Regions from separate parts of the Homo sapiens genome. Here region 2 is linked to region 1. Evidence: fine-mapped expression QTL. A gene starts in region 1. The other region holds a variant in brackets. All regions are shown on one strand. Distances are from middle to middle.

Region 1 (5,374 bases):
AAAAAACATCATTGGGGGTGGCTATTTCTCCAGCTCTTTACTATGAATATTGAAAAGTAAAGAGATTAAATTTAACATTTAATTTGCATTTTGGGGAAGAACAATAGTTTACCTGCACTTAATGAAGGAAATCTCTTCCTTACAGAGAACCTCCAATAACTGATTTAAGCAAAAGTCATCATGGGTGCTAAAAACCACTAAGCAAAAGATTGTCAGAAACTGGGTATTTGCTTAGTGTCCAAGTTTTACCCCAAGATTACATATTAATCACAAACTGGCAAACCACACCTTTACAACAGATCAGTAGTCAGCACTTTAATCAAATGGTTACATTTAGCATCATTAATAGTGTGGGAATCTGACATTGTGTGCCTCCTATATTATGCAACAGGAGGTACACAGCATCACCTATTAAATATTCTTGCCAAAGGAAGTTTTACTTTAAGCTAATTAAGCCTTCCTTTACACCTAACTTCCAGTTAATAGGAAATTCAGGGAGAAAGAGGAATAAACGAAATGACATTAGGAGGGCACAAATCCAGAATGTGGGTATATTTTACAAGACAACTGGTTTGGTCAATTACGTGTCAGAAAAAAAGAAGGGAGGGAATATTCATCCTATTTAATTTCCCCTGCAAAAAGAAGAGGGGATGGATACTCTTCATTTTACAAAATGACTAAAGACTTAATCACCAAATGCAATCAATGCATGAATCTTGACTGACTACAACTGGGGGCAGAACCCTCAAAGACACTTTGGAACAACTGAGGAATTTTGAAGATGGAGTTGTTAATTTTGATAGGCATTAATAATGATACTGGGGTTAGTAGGAGAATGTCCCTATTTTTAGGAAACACATGCCGAAATATTTGAGGATTACAGTGTTTGCAGCTTACTTTCAAATAATTACACACATACAGAGAAAGACAGGAAACAATATGGCAAAAATGCTAATCACTGAGTTGGTTATTCATTGCATTGATTAGCATTTTTATTCATTGCATGAATAACCGATCACAATTGTATAGAACGAACCTCTATACGACTAAAATTTTTCATAACAAAGTTAATAAAATTGTACTTCTATTGAGAAGTACGGTAGAAAGTACACGAAAGTACATCTATACTGGAATTATATTTGGGTTGAAATCTAAACTATCTTACTAGTTGTGTGCCCTAAGGCAAGTTGTAATTCTTCGTATCACTAAGTTTGTCACTTCTATAAAATTCAAGTAATAATATCTGCATCATTAGGTTGTTCTGAGAATTAAATAATTACAAATGCAAAAATGCCAAGCAGTACTGCACAAAATGAATAATCTGGTTTTCATAATTAATCAGTACATTACTAATAATCCTAAAATACAAAACTAAAGGACTACGTTCATTATATTCACATTCTATGATAAGGGGAAACTACATTAGGTAAAATTATTATTAATCCACTGACAGTCCAAGTGAAGTAATGGGGGAAATGAAGATTTATACAGTATTTTTTAAACCCAAGAATTCCAACTGAACACCTAGAGAAAAGGAAATCAAAATCGTGCAGCTTGCTTCCGGTATCAGCCGATCTCCAAATAAAGCATTAAGAAAATAAGTGGAAGTTATGGAGAATTTCTTCCTGACTTCAAGAGATTATCTACTTACACGCTGAAAAAGAAATTAAGTTTTTGTCTTCATTTTTGTAAGTTCCAAAAAAAAGCACACAATTACGGGGTTTTATTGTAAATTCTGCTTGGATTCATAGAACTCACATGGACGCAATTTCCTTTTAATCAGTTCTAACGTACCTGTCATTTCTCGAGGTAACCCCTTTTTCTGATTAGGCCAGCAATAAAACGACTAGATGCAGAGTGATCCTCAGGAAGGAAAGGAAAAGAGGTGTGTGTGTGTGTGTATGTGTGTGTGTGTTTGTGTGTGTGTATATATATATATATATATTTTTTTAAAGAAGTGCCATCTTTTTCTTTCTGTACCAGAGAAAAAGCAGAAGGGGAAAGGAGGAAAAAAAACAGGTCTGAGCCTCCCGGGTTCGACCAGGTGAGAGGTGGCAACACTCCGGCCGCTCCGGGTTAGGGTGTTGGGCAAATGGGCGTGCAAAGGACGGGCAGCTCCCTGGAAGGTCGGGGTAACTGCTCCGGGACCGCGGGGCCCAAGGCCGGTCTCCTCCCAGAAGGATTAAATGCCACCGAGGGGATCCCGTGGGGTGTCTCCCGGCGCGGACTAGGCTGACAGACCCGGCTCTCCGCTCCCTTCGGCGCCAGGTGGGGGCCACGCGGTGTCAGCCACGGGCAGCGTGCAGGGGCCGTCCCCCGCGCGACCGGAGCCCGCCCTCCCCTCCCCGTTACCTGCGGGCGGCGGCGCCGGGCCCGGAGGCCTGCTGCTCCTCCTCCTTCTCCCGCCAGGCTGGGGCGGCGAGGCGGCGGCGGCGGCGGCCCGGGGGGAGGGGGCGGAGCGCGGCTCGCTGCCTCTCTCCTCCCCCGGGAGGCTCAGGGGCCCCTATCTCGGGCCGCCGCGCCTAGGCCCGTGAGCAGCCTGTGGTGGGGCATGGCGGCACAGCCACCGGCGTGCCCGCGAGTGGGAGTGCGAGGAGGCGGGGAGGGAAGCACCCCCAGCGCTCGGAGGGGCCAGAGGGGAGGAGCGAGGGGGCCCGGGAGCCGCGCGCTGGCGACCGTTGGGGACGGTTGGCCGAGGGCAGGCGGTTGTTTGGGGAGCGCGGCGACGGCTCGCGTGTTCCCAGCGGGGCGGGGTGGGGAAGGGGAAGGGGACTGAGGGGAGGGGAGGGGGAGGTTGGGAGGGAGCCGCCGCCGCGCGCGTGCGGCCGGCGCCGCCGCCGTTGCCGCTCCGCTCACTCCAGCCTGTTTGGGGGCACTTTGTTTGTGTCCCACAATGCTCTGCGCCGGCGGCCTGGCTGGGGAAGGGGAGGAGAAGGGGGCGGGGCGGAGCGCGCTCGGGGGCGGGGCTCGGGGCGGGGAAGGAAACGTGATGATTGCGCAAGCGCAGAAAATGGGCCCTCTTGGCCGTCGGGACTTGTACTGTTGGTGACTCCGTCTCCTTAGACGGTGGAGCCTGCGTGACCCAGAAAGGCCGTGAGTCTTGACACTGTATTTTTGCATATGTGCGCACATGTGCCGATTTACATTCACATGCCCCATAAGCCCTGTCCCATTTGTCCTTCCTCTAAGCCGTCCTCTTACCCAGTTCCCCTCTCACACCTGAGAAGCATTTCTCCGCAGGAGTCACATTTATAGCATTATTTTTTTCTTCGAACTAAAAACATAACTCCTATTTTCTCGGGTAGTTTTTGTAGGGAGGTCGAAATAGAAACACTTCAGCCCCTCTTCGGCGAGGGAGGTTAGTTGGTAAGGTGCCCATTGTTCACCCATGGAAACAGGCCTGCCAAGGGCCGCCCCGCAGACAGGTGAGCCCGCGCCCCCGTCCTGGGCGGACTGCGACATGCGGCGGGTGTCTGGATTGCGTGGCTCCTCGGGCCTCCTCGCAGTGCTTGCTCTCTTCCGTTCTAGCACTTGCCTCGGTGACCTGGCAGGACGTGCGGTTCTTGAGATGAGTGGAGAAACGGACTCCCAGGTCCCTCTCGTTCTTCCAACACAGGGACAGCTAGAGCTGCTCCAAAAATATACCCTACTTCTTCCACAACCGTGAATCTGTCATTTTTACTGCACCATCACTTACTTCCTGGCCTTCCCGGAGGAAGTGTGCGGGCCTCCCCGAAGTAACCGGTACCGCCCGGGGGGTTTTGAAGTTCTTGGTCAACTGCAAAATCAATCAACCTAGTTAACTCCTAGGGCCCTAAGTCTTGGCTTCCCCTGGCCAGGCGGGCGAGCGCTCTCCACACCGCCCCCGGAGGTCATAGGGGTTCCCGGGACTGCAGGCGGCAGCGCCCCAGGTGCCTGGGGGCGGGCGGGGTGCGGGCAGGTGCTCCTTGGGCGCTTTCTGTTTTCCCACGCCTCCAGTTTGCAAACCGAAAGACTTCTTTCCAGAGGGTTTTGTGCAAGGTGGGTGGACGTCCCGCTGAAGTAGAGTGGATTTTCCTTTTGAAACACTTGGCAACATCTCACATTAATTCACTCTGAGAGACAAGCAGCCAAGCACCTGAACACCCTGACACTTGCAATCTTCTTTAGGAATAAAGGCAATAAAAACAACTTCTGTTTTTATAGTCCTTCGCAGTTTCCAACAAGTTTTCAAGCATGTATAATGTTATCTAATCCTTACGGCAACTGTAATTCACAGGTTTTATCACAGGTTTCTATTATTATTCCCACTATCATTCTTATTATTCCCATTTCAGAGATGAGAAAAATCAGAAAGATGCGAACTAGGCCCAGAAACTTTTGCACTAAGTTTTGAAGAGGGGAAGGGAAAGAAGGCGGAATGCTTACCTGGGAGAGGACTGGCGGCCACAGAGCAGGGCTCAGGAAAGGGCATGAGCTGGGGCCCTGGTGAGGAATGTGTGAGAATGTATGTAGGTGGTAAGCAACTGGACAAGAATCAGGGTGGAAATGAAGTAGTCAAATCCTATCTACCTCTCCTAGTGCCTTTAACAGGATAGTCAATAAAAGACCATGAGGCAAGTCTTTTCTAAGTGCTTCTCCAGGGGCTGTGGTGGCAGCTCCTCAACTACTACACTGACACAAAAATTTGCTTTCCTTTGTAGTACAACTTGAAGTCAGGTAGAGGAATGCCTCTAGCTTTGTTATTTTTGCTCAGAATTGCCCTAGCTTTTCAGGGTCTTTTGTGGTTCCATACAAATTTTAGGATTTTTTTTTCTAGTTCTGTGATGAGTGTCATTGATATTTTGGTAGGGATTGTACTGTACCTGTAGGTGGCTTTGGGTAGTGTGGATATTTTAACAATATTAATTCTTTCAATTCATGAGCGTGAGATATCTTTCCTTTTTTTTTTTTTTTTTTTTTTGTTCTCTTCATTTTCTTTCATCAATGTGTACACTTTTCCGGGTAGAGATTTTTCACTTCCTTGCTTACATTTATTGCTAGGTATTTTATTTTGCTTTTTTGTAGCTATTGTGAATGAGATTGTTTTCTTGATTTCTTTTTCAGATTGATGGCTGTTAGCATATAGAAAATCAACTGTGCTGGGTGTGGTGGCTCACGCCTGTAATCCCAACACTTTGGGAGTCCAAGGCAGGCAGATCACGAGGTCAGGAGTTCAAGACCAGCCTGGCCAACATAGTGAAACCCCATCTCTACTAAAAATACAAAAAAGTTAGCTGGGAATGGTGGCACGCGCCCGTAGTCCCAGCTACTTGGGAGGCTGAGGTGGGGAATCACTTGAACCCAGGGGGTGGAGGTTACAGTGAGTCGAGATCGTGCCACTCCAGCCTGGCGA
Region 2 (5,374 bases), 89 kb after region 1:
GTCTGATTCATTCGCGTTTACAGAAACTTGAAATTTCCAGTGTCCAAAAACCCTTTCAACTATTTTTTTTCTTCCCTTTCTTAGAAACAGGAAGTTGTGTTTGGCTGCGGACAAACTCTCTCAGTGCCCCTGGGACTTACAAGATGTTTGGAATGAGGAACGGTGAGGTCTGGGGAAGGCTTCTTTCCTCTCTCCTTTCCTGGGGCGATTCGCATCTGCCAGGGCTGGGCTGGGCAGCTCTGGGGGCTGGAAGGCCAGCCGGAACCTTCCTGTCTCTTTCTACTGAGCCCCAGGCCTGAGGGAAAGTATGTTCTAAAGAGACAGGTGGCTTTCTTGCTCTCTGCTTGTCATTACGGTTCAGAATGCACTTGTGCACTGGTGTCATGTCTCTTCCCAGTACTTGAGCAGTGGCTGTGATGAGTCCCTTGATCTATTTCAGGGGGTGTGGGCTGGCCGGCACTCAGTTTTAAGCAAGTCCTGCTCTTTCCAAAGTGGAAGGTCAGAAAAACTCCCCACCTGAAGAAGAACGAGCCAGGGAAGTGTGGTACCAGCTGTTTAGGACCACACCTATTGGTTACGTCTGGCCAGGTCATTCTGCAGTGTTGACCTGGAAAGCACACAGGTGCTTAGGAGGGGCTGGCCAGGGGCAGGGAAAGTGTGGGAGTCACAGCCCACCCACTCCGTTCGCGGGACCCTCCAGTTTTTACTGTTGCTCGTTGTGTTCTCCTGTGTTGTTTAGAATGTTGTCATATGTACGGTCAATACAACCACAGTATTTGTCGCATTAGTGATCACCAACATTGAGCCAATGAAGACGCTGGCTTAGATGGGTGACTTCTTCTTTCCCACATTCCACATGCAGCTCTCCCAATGCGAGCTCAGCGGAGGCCCCCAGAAAAACGTGGGGAGGAGAGTTTTCCCCATAAGACAGACTGTCCTTCAGCCCCGGCCACCAAAGAGGAGTAACCCGGGCCTGCTGTTCTCTGGGACTGAATGCGGCTGCATCCTTCCCTTCCTCTGCTTCCTGTCCCGGTACTTACTGACGGTGCACATGCGGGGCTTGGGGAAGCTGAGTGTCTAACCGCGGTGCAGCTACGGATGGGAAATTCTGGGCAGGGACGAGCCTGTCTTCACCTGAGGAATTCCCTCCCACATCACACAGGGCAGAGTGGGAGTGGAGGAGGGCAGAGGACACGTCTCAGGGCCAGTAACCTAGGCTTATAGAAGACGTCATCACCGTCCTCATGATGTTCACCCCGTCTCCTGTTTTTTGGGGCCATGTGTTCCGAAATGTAGCTTCAACTCATCATAGGGGCAAAAAGAAGTGATGAGTCTGTGGCAGCAGAAATCTGGGAATCCAAGGGTCGTGCTACATCTAGTCCTCTTTGATAAATTCTGCCTTCCTGTTCACATTTTTCGAGAAACCATTTTGAATTCCCAAACAGCAAAGGAAATGCTGCAGGTTCCTGGAGGGACCTGGTGATCTGGGGCAGAGCACACGGAGTCGAGATTGCTGCGGGGTTCACGAGCCTCCCCTCCTGGGACCAGGGGCACCTGGGCAGGGTAGTCTGCACCACGCAGGAAAGCCCAGTACACGCAGCTGCTCAACGCTGCAGACGCCATAGCGCAGGGCTGACAAGGCCTCCCTCTTTATCTGCCCTGGACCACAAGTGGAAAATATCAAGACAAAGCAAAAGCCAGTATCCCTTAAGAACTTTCCAATTGTTCTTGTCATTTGTAGTTTTGTTTTTTGGGGGGTGTGGGGAGGGAGGGGTGGTTTGAAACAACTCCGGAGCACACTCCAGAGGAAAACAGGAAGGGTGACATGTTTGGACACCAGAAAAGAGGAAGAGTCCTCACTAAGAGGGTGACTTGGTTAAAAAGTTCAAGCACAAAGGATGTAGAAGCAGGTGGATGTCATCAGAGAACAGATGCGGATCTAGTGAGATGGGTCCTACCACCCCTGGAATATGTTCCTGGGAGAGGGGTGGTCTGCTAGAGTGGACTGGGAATAGTAATATTGCATACTTTTGTAAATTCACAAAACCCTCTGATCTGTGATAGAGGAATAAAGGGCAGAGGATAAACCCCAGATAAAGATTCACTTATCTTAAAAATGAAAGGTTGGAAATTAACTTTATGCTACTGTACCACCTTCGAAGTATTTCTGGCAGGTGCCTGGAGGATTCAGATTAATGACCAAATTACCTGCCAAGTCAGGGCCTCCCATTAGAAGAGAGTACCAGTTTCCATTAGGAGCACTAGCTGGAAAACACAATCTTTCAGCAGAGGAAATACAGTCTTCTCTCCTTCTCTGGGTGCACAGAGTGGTCGTGGTTGGCTGGGGCAGATAATGGTGTGGTCTTCCTCTGCAGATCTGGTTTCTGAGTCCCTGGGCTGCAGCTGTTG[A/T]ATTTCCAGACACAAACAAGTATGCGTTCTGAGAGCCTCGCCGAGCCCACACAACCGGGAGAGCCAAGCTGGATTCCATTCTGCTTTGCACATCAGCAGCTCTGCTGCCAGCTGAACTCCAGGGCAAAAGCTGTGCCTGGTAATGATGCAGGCAGCAGGGATGGCACAGCTGGCCTGGCTTAGGCCGTTAAGGGGGACACGCTTGGCCTTATTTGGGGGAGAGCGAGAAATGGAAGGCGATGAAGAGTTGCGGAAGCATACATCAGCCTCCACAAAACTGGTGCACAGCAGGGAAACAATCTGGTTTTGCTAGTCATCAACAACATGCCTGTGTGTGTGCCTGTTTATGCTTAGGTAAGCCCAGCCTCCCACTCGCTGAAAAGAGTAGGCAGACAAGAAGGAGTGACCAACTCTGAGTCAGCTGTCATCGTGTAGAGAGCAGCTAAGGGGAACAGTGGGGCTGGAATCTCATGGCCTTGCCTAGTGCCCCTACAGCATCCTCTCTGCCCATGGTGCCAGATATCTGAATGGGAGGACAAAGGGGGCACAGGTGGTGAAAAAAACCAAGATGCACATTTGGGTATTTTCCTTCTTTTGCTAGAATGTCATTTCTTGATGTCTGTTTCTTGTCACCCATTTGTGATCAGGGACTAAGTAAGTTCCCTCTGCACCAGACCAGGTGGAAGACTGAGCCAGAGTTCCTCTGAGCCACAGGAGAGATGAGGAGCTATGGAGCGGAGTAGGGGCTGAGGATCTGGTGCCCCCAGCTAAACTAAAAGGAGGCAGGCAGCATGTAAGAGGATGATGGGGTAGCTCACAGAGAGGAAGGGGATATTCTTTCTCAAGAATGATGAGCCCAAAGGCATCGCATAACAATTGTGATCTCCCAGCTGGACGTTTCCTGTAGCACAGGTGTTCACAGTGTGGCTCCCAAACCAGCAGCCTCCATGTCAGTCACTGGGAACTTGTTAGAAATGCAGATTCTCAGGCCACCCCAACCATTAGATCAGAAACTCTGGGGATGGGGCCCCACAATCTGTGTTTTCTTTTCTTTCTTTCTTTCTTTTTTTTTTTTTTTGAGACAGGGTCTCACTGTGTCATCCAGGCTGGAGTGCAGTGGCATGAAAATGGCTCACTGCAGCCTCAACCTCCTGGGCTCAAGTGACCCTCCCACCTCAGCCTCCTGAGTAGCTGGGACTACAGGCCTGTACCACCATGACCGACTGATTTCGTTTTTTAATTTTTTATAGAAACAGGGTCTCGCCATATTGTCATGGCTGGTCTTGAACTCCTGGGCTCAGGCAATCCTCCTGCCTCAGCCTCCCAAAGTGCTGGAATGACAGGTGTGAGCCACTGTGCCCAGCCTCACAATCCATTTTCACAGCCCTCTACGTGATCCTAATGAAACCTTGGGAACCACTGGTCTAGATCCTGCAAATGAAAGTTGCCCGAATGAGCTGGATTCTGCAGGCCTGTGAGGACCCAGAGCAGGCAGGGATCCAGCTGCTGACCTAGTTTCAGCCTCCATCCCTGGGTTCTAGGTTGCTGCCCTTTCCAAAGAAACAATGAATCAGACCAGACCACTGCATTGGCATAAGATCACACTTTAGTTCAGAGACACATTTGCATAAATACTTGAAATGGATCCACCCCTGCAGGTGGCAGCCTGAGAACATGTGGCTCTCCAAACCCTGCGACGCTGCGGCCCTTTAGGTGATGGATTTTAACACTGAAGACAGTCGTGGTCATTCTTGAAGACAGCTTGGGGTCCAGCTTTGGAGCCTGCTTTGACATTCACCATTGACTCCCTGCCCCACGCCTCTCTTGTACTAATTTTTTCCCCTGTGAGGTAGATTATTTATCGGGGAAACCAGATAGAATTTTTTTTTTCATTTAAGTTTGCTAGTCCTTTGCAAACAGACTGACGCTGAGTGTCCTGTCTGAGTCAATAAGTGCACTTTTACCTTTTAACCTATGCCCTCTACTTGAACCCGAGCAAGGTCCAGTCCACTGGACAGTTGATGATAGGGTCTGCCGCCCCATACCCTCTCCTCTTCCCCCTTAGGAATTTGTGCAGTACTGGAGGGGTTGCGGCAATGGGAGGCCTGGGTGGGCCGTGCTGCCTTGATATGGCCAAGGGACCCAGTCACCACAGTGGAGACCCTTGTCTGCACCTCAGTACCGCATGTCCAGGAGCACAAGACTGGCCCCTGCCCCCCTGAATCACAGGGGGCACAGCTGGCTTTCGCAGGGCTTGGCATCCTCGGGTTTCAGAGCCTTGTTGCAGGTGGCAGAGGCCTGGCCGGAGGGGTCCCTGCACTCTACAGTTCGCCTCTGCCAGCCGGCCCCGCAGGTGCTAGAGCACTCAGACCAGTCCCCCAGCACCCACTGTGCGTGGAGCAGCGGCTGGATGATGTTGGTGGTTGCTCTCTCTTTGCTGCTCTGCATGCTAAAGTCCACGTCATTAGGAACAAAGAAGGTGTATTTGACTTTTGGGGGGAAGACCTCGCCAGGGACTGTCAGGAGCTGCACTGTCAGAGGCTCTGGCAAGGGCCGGAAGCTCTGCAGGCGCTCCAGGGTGGCGATGGAGCCGCTGTACTTCAGGATGGTCCCCTTCACCAAGATGTCCTGCTCTATGGCAGAGATGGCCAGGTTGCCGTTGAGCAGGTACTGCCCATCAGCCGTCTTCAGCGCCAGGTAGTTCCCATCGTTCTGCACACCCGGGTGGCTCCGCTGCTTCACGTCAATATTAGTGGCACCAGCTGGGATGGTGACAATGTCATTGTAGCCATAACTGTGATAGAAACAGAAGGACACCCTTAGACCAGTGGCTGCCCAGCCCAGGTCACGATGATGCCTTGGAGACTGAAGTGGGCACCCCAGGTGGCAGACACGAAAAAAACAAAGCAAGTAATTAAGCAAGTTGCCTCAAAGTTCTCAATAAATTAGCTGTTTAGGCAGACAG

What was found. PIP is the estimated chance that this variant, and not a neighbour inherited with it, causes the effect.
Region 2: its variant is fine-mapped to the expression of ZBTB44-DT in testis (GTEx, PIP above 0.99).

What each region holds. Positions count from the first base shown.
Region 1 is chr11:130,312,023-130,317,396 of GRCh38, forward strand. ZBTB44-DT (ZBTB44 divergent transcript) reads left to right here and starts at 2,971. Exons shown (of 7, transcript NR_148980.1): 1 at 2,971-3,093. ZBTB44 (zinc finger and BTB domain containing 44) reads right to left here and starts at 2,895. Exons shown (of 8, transcript NM_001301098.2): 1 at 2,353-2,895. RefSeq lists enhancers at 2,049-2,098, 3,259-3,358, 3,529-3,628 and silencers at 2,189-3,018, 3,929-3,988.
Region 2 is chr11:130,400,926-130,406,299 of GRCh38, forward strand. It overlaps ADAMTS8 (ADAM metallopeptidase with thrombospondin type 1 motif 8), which reads right to left. Exons shown (of 9, transcript NM_007037.6): 9 at 3,998-5,203. The coding sequence ends at 4,633. It overlaps ZBTB44-DT (ZBTB44 divergent transcript), which reads left to right. Exons shown (of 7, transcript NR_148980.1): 6 at 85-162; 7 at 2,376-2,732. Among named protein-coding and RNA genes, the nearest start is that of ADAMTS8, 25 kb to the right of the region's middle. The variant A/T (reference allele first, on the strand shown) is at 2,410.